Linked DNA regions of Homo sapiens: region 2 is linked to region 1. The links come from fine-mapping of genetic effects on gene expression. A gene starts in region 1. The other region holds a variant in brackets. All regions are shown on one strand. Distances are from middle to middle.

The links.
Region 2: its variant is fine-mapped to the expression of P2RX6 in fibroblasts (GTEx, PIP 0.90).

What each region holds. Positions count from the first base shown.
Region 1 is chr22:21,013,647-21,016,542 of GRCh38, forward strand. P2RX6 (purinergic receptor P2X 6) reads left to right here and starts at 1,519. Exons shown (of 12, transcript NM_005446.5): 1 at 1,519-1,692; 2 at 2,296-2,446. The coding sequence starts at 1,529. It also overlaps the pseudogene TUBA3FP. RefSeq lists an enhancer at 399-548.
Region 2 is chr22:21,043,600-21,046,495 of GRCh38, forward strand. It overlaps LRRC74B (leucine rich repeat containing 74B), which reads left to right and starts at 2,347. Exons shown (of 10, transcript NM_001291006.2): 1 at 2,347-2,526. The coding sequence starts at 2,388. It also overlaps the pseudogene P2RX6P. The variant G/A (reference allele first, on the strand shown) is at 1,486.

The DNA of each region.
Region 1 (2,896 bases):
TCTACCTGTCTGATGACAAATGGCACACTATGTCTTTTAACCTGATTGCAGACCACAAATGTTTTGTGAATATTTTCCCCAGGGAAAAAACCGGAAGTAGTTCTAAATTCTATACATCCATTATATTAGTTTTACCTGTGGATTGGGAAAACCCAGCTCTGATTGCATTTCAGGGCGGGACAGCCTTTGGTGCACTGTCTGGCGGGATTTTCCATTTTAACCTCCTTCTAGAAGCGCCTTCTCATGGTAAAGTTCCTGATGCCGCCAGGAGCGCCGAGGAGAGGGCAGGGGGCTGGAGACGCCCCGCAGAGGGCTACGTGCCCTGCTGGACAGAGGTCTCCTGCCTCCTCGGCGGCGCCAGCCCACCTCCCACAACCCCTGCGGGAGAAGCCCCCAAGGGGAGGAGACGGGCCTGGCCCCTGCCCCGAGCACCTTCCGTCTCTAGGTCGGAGTCTGAATCGGCCTTGGGACCCTGCTTGGCTTCGGGGACCCCTGCAAGACGTCCACAGGCCGCCGTCGCCTCTTCCTCCTGCTTTTTATCCTCCCCAGACCTCTGGCAGGAACCGCTCATCGTTACGCCCCTTTCGCAGCCTCAGACCCTGAGGCGGAGACCGCTTGGCGCCTCACTTAGAGCGCGACCCGGGGATGTGGGCGGAGTCTGCGGCTGCGCTGACCAATCGAGTGTGGCGTCCATCGACTGGCGTCTGCCACGGCAATTAGCGACGCGCTCCCCCGCGGCGGTCGCCCCGGCAACCCAGTGCTGTAGGTTGCCGTAGAAACCGTGGCTCTCCTGCGCTGAGGCTCCTCGCCTGAGAGGATAAACTGCACGCGCCACGGGCTATGCACTGGGCTGGGCGCCTTGTGGGCATCCTCCCTGCCTTCCTAGGGGGTTCCAGCATCGCCCCCCTTTCGTGGACTGGGAAACACGCCTGACTCCAGGACTTGTGTTGTCCTCACTGCACTGGGGAAGGTGGCGGGGGCAGCTTTTCAGGAGGGCCTGGGGAACTTCGCAGAGCCAGGTCACCCTCTCACTCTGTGCCTCTTAGTTATCTTGCATGCTCTGGTCTTTGCATACGCTGCTCCCTGCACCAGGAACCTCCATCCCCATCTTTGTCTGCTTGTCGAACTTCAGAAATCTGCAAGGGTCAGCTTAGAGGTCACTTCTTCCGGAAGCTTTCCTCAACACCCTCCCCGCCCTGCTGCTGCTGCCCTCAGGCCCTCCTCTCACAGCACTGATAACAGCTGTCCGTCTCCACCCTCCCACCACCTCCACTCCCACCCCAGGAAGTGAGGCCAGAGGGCAGGGACAGAGCTGCTGCTGTTCTCTGTGTGCCAGGGCCCAGCAAAGGGAATGTAGGGAGGGTGGGAGGTGCAGGGCAGCTGGGATTAGGGGTTGAGGGCTGGGTGTTGGAGGCTGGATCTGGATCCTGCTTTAGTGGAAGTGTCCCTTTAACAGCAACTGGCCTGGCCTGGCTCGGGCCCTGCTTTGCCTCCTGTTCAGCTGCGGCTGCAGCTGCCATGCTGACTCATGTGCCCGCAGCTAGCAGGAGCTGGCAGCATGGGCTCCCCAGGGGCTACGACAGGCTGGGGGCTTCTGGATTATAAGACGGAGAAGTATGTGATGACCAGGAACTGGCGGGTGGGCGCCCTGCAGAGGCTGCTGCAGTTTGGGATCGTGGTCTATGTGGTAGGGTAAGAGAGAAGAGCTTTTGGCCAGGCTGGAGGGGCAAGGGAAGAGGTGGGGGGTGGGGCTTGGTCCTGCTGGGTTGAAGTTGAGGGTTGGGCTGTTTAGGGGCTGGAGTGGAAGGGGGCAGATTGGGACGGGGTTGGGGAGAGCTAGGCGATACAAGACAGGAGAGCAAGAACAAGCTGTGTGTTTGTCCTGTGTGTCCACTTGCCTCCTTCCCAGGCCCCCACCCAGGCCCCACCCAGGGGGCACATGACATAGTCCTTAACATCTGTGAGAGCTGGAGCACTAGGCCCCCAGAGAGACCACCAGCTGTATCTCGGGTCAGGAGAGTCTGTAAGGGGGAAGCTGGATCTAGTCAGGCTGGGGGTGGGTGCTGGCTAGTGAAGGTGATTGTCTGAGGGCATTGGCTCTCTGATGCATGGCTGGAGCTTCTGTCTCATTCAGGGGGTCTGGAGTGGGAAGTGGGGCCAGAGAGGAGGTGGGGCCTTCGATGTTGGGCCGGGAGCCTGTAGGGTGTGGGGGGAGAACTGAGCATGTAGGGCTCAGCTCCGCCCCTGTCACTACACGCTGGGGACACACCACACTGCCCGACTTCTCCTCCCCAGGTGGGCTCTCCTCGCCAAAAAAGGCTACCAGGAGCGGGACCTGGAACCCCAGTTTTCCATCATCACCAAACTCAAAGGGGTTTCCGTCACTCAGATCAAGGAGCTTGGAAACCGGCTGTGGGATGTGGCCGACTTCGTGAAGCCACCTCAGGTGGGGGCCCTGATGTTGCTGACGGGGGCGCAAGTCCTTTCCCCACTGACAGCCTGAACACCCGCCATGCAGCCAGTGTGTGCGAGAGAGAAGCATGTGATGCCAGAGACGGCTGCGGGTTCTCAGGAAGGGCTTCACAGAGGAGTGGCACCTGGACAGGACTTTCAGGGATGTGTAGGAGGTTTTGGGGTGGAAAAAGGGGCCACTCAAGAAGCCAGGCCAGGGTTGGACGTGCTGGCTCACGCCTGTAATCCCAGCACTTTGGGAGGCCAAGGCAGGTGGATCACGAGATTGAGAGTATCCTGGCTAACACGGTGAAACCCCATCTCTATTAAAAATACAAAAAATTAGCCGGGCATGGTGGTGGGCGCCTGTAGTCGCAGCTACTCGGGAGGCTGGGGCAGGAGAATGGCATGAACCCGGGAGGTGGAGCTTGCAGTGAGCCGAGAT
Region 2 (2,896 bases), 30 kb after region 1:
TGATCTTTGGACATATGAGTGTGCACCTGGAAGACAGCTGTGCTCTGGGCAGGTGTTCACTGGGGCTACATACACCCTGGGAATCAGAGGAGCAGAGGTGGGTGGAAGTTAAGGCTGTGGATAAGCTGGGTGGAGGGAAGAGGAAAATGCAGCTGAGAAGGGTGGAGGAGGAGCACCTGACCGAGGTGCCCCAGGTCAGGGAGCAGGGCTACAGGAAGTTCCACGCCCTGGCCCCACCACACCCCTCCCACACCACTCTCAAGCTCAAGCCATTAGTCTCAAACACTCCCTTCTTTTCTGTTGGCAGCCTTCGGAAATGCAGTTTCTCTGGCCTGGTTTCTCAACCCATCCCTTTTTCTACCAGAAACCTCCTACACATCCCTGAAAGTCCTGTTCAGGTGCCACTCCTCTGTGAAGCCCTTCCTGAGAACCTGCAGCCACCTTTGGCATCACATGCTTCTCTCTCGCACACACTGGCTGCATGGCGGGTGTTCAAGCTGTCAGTGGGGAAAGGACTTGCGCCCCCGTCAGCAACATCAGGGCCCCCACCTGAGGTGGCTTCACGAAGTCGGCCACATCCCACAGCCGGTTTCCAAGCTCCTTGATCTGAGTCACGGAAACCCCTTTGAGTTTGGTTGTGATGGAAATCTGGGGTTCCAGGTCCCGCTCCTGGTAGCCTTTTTTGGCGAGGAGCGCCCACCTGGGAAGGAGAAGATGGGCAGTGTGGTGTCCCCCCAGCGTGTAGTGACGGGGCAGAGCTGGGCCCTACATGCTCAGTTCTCTCCCCACACCCTACAGGCTCCCAGTCCAGCATCCTCTCTGGCCCCACTTCCCACTGTAGACTCCCTGAACGAGACAGAAGCTCCAGCCATGCATCAGAGAGCCAGTGCCCTCAGACAATCACCTTCACTAGCCAGCACCCACCCCCAGCCTCAGTAGACCCAGCTCCGAGCTTATAGACTCCCCTGACCGGAGATATAGCTGGTGGTCTCTCTGGGGGCCTAGTGCTCCAGCTCTCACAGATGTTAAGGACAATGTCTTGTGCCCCCTGGGTGGGGCCGTGGGGAGGGACTGGGAAGCAGGCAGGTGGACACACAGGACAAACACACAGCTTGTTCTTGCTCTCCTGTCTTGTATTGCCTACCTCCCACCCCGTCCCATTATGGCCCCTTCCCCTCCAGCCCCTAAACAGCCCAACCCTCAACTTCAACCCAGCAGGACCAAGCCCCACCCCCGACCTCTTCCCTTGCCCCTCCAGCCTGGCCAAAAGCTCTTCTCTCTTACCCTACCACATAGACGACGATCCCAAACTGCAGCAGCCTCTGCAGGGCGCCCCCCCACCAGTTCCTGGTCATCACATACTTCTCCGTTTTATAATCCAGAAGCCCCTAGTCTGCTGTGGCCCCTGGGGAGCCCATGCTGCCAGCTCCTGCTAGCTGCGGGCACATGAGTCAGCATGGCAGCTGCAGCCGCAGCTGAACAGGA[G/A]GCAAAGCAGGGCCCGAGCCAGGCCACGCCAGCCGCTGTTAAAGGGACACTTCCACTAAAGCAGGATCCAGCCTCCAACACCCAGCCTTCAGCCCCTAACCCCAGCTGCCCTGCACCTCCCACCCTCCCTACATTCTCTTTGCTGGGCCCTGGTGGCACACAGAAAACAGCAGCTCTGTCCCTGCCCTCTGGCCTCACTTCCTCCGGTGGGAGTGGACGTGGTGAGAGGATGGGGAAGGACAGCTGTTATCAGTGCTGTGAGAAGACGGCCTGAGGGCAGCAACAGCCCCGGGGGGGCTCTGAGTAAAGCTTCAGGAATAAGTGACTTCTGAGCTGACGCTTGCAGATTCTGAAGTTCAACAAGCAGACAAAGATGGGGATGGAGGTTCCCAGGGGAGCGAACAGCGTATGCAAAGGCCAGCGCATGCAAGAGAACTGAGAGCCACAGAGTGAGAGGGTGACCTGGCTCTGCGAAGTTCCCCAGGCCCTCCTGAAAAGCCATTCCCAAGTGCAGTGAAGAAAACACAAGCTCTGGAGTCAGGCATGTTTCCCATTCCATGAAAGGGGGGCGATGCTGGAACCGCCTAGGGGAGGCAGGGGGATAAACGCAGCAAGGCGCCCAATCCGGTGCATGGTCTGTGGCGCATGCAGTGTATCAGCCCGGGCGAGGAGCCTCAGCACAAGCCGGCCACAGTTTCTACGGCAACCGACAACACCGGGTTGCCGGGGCGACCGCCGCGGGAGAGCGCGTCGCTATTGGCTGTGGGGGGTGCCTGTTGCTGGACGGCACATTCGGTTGGTCAGCGCAGCCGCAGACTCCGCCCACAATCCCGGGCCGCGCTCTGGGCGCGGGGTCAAGCTGTCTCCGACTCAGTGTCTGAGACTGCGAGAGGGTCGTAACCATGAGGGGTTCCTGTGAGAGGTCTGGGGAGGATGAAGAGCAGAAAGAAGAGGCTATGGTGGCCTGTGGGCGTCTTTCAGGGGTCCCCGAGGCCGAGCAGGGTCCCGAGGCCAATTGGGACTCCGACCTGGAGACGGAAGGTGCTCGGGGGAGGGGGCAGGCCCGACTCCTCCCCTTTGGGGGTCTTCTCCCGCAGGGGTTGGGGGAGGCGGGCTGGGGCTAAGGCCAGCAGGGAACGTACCCGCCTGCGGGGCGCCTCCAGCCCCCTGCCTTCCCTTCATTGCTCCTGGAAGCATCAGGATAAAATGCAAAATCCCGCCAGACAGTGCACCAAGGGCTGTCCCACCCTGAAATGAAATCAGAGCCGGGTTTTCCCAATCCACAGGAAAAACTAAGCTAATGGATGTATGGAATTTAGAACTATCTCGGTTTTTTCTCCCGTAAAATGTTTACAAAACATTTGTGGCCTGCAATCCAGGTTAAAAGACACAGCATGCAATTTGGCATCAG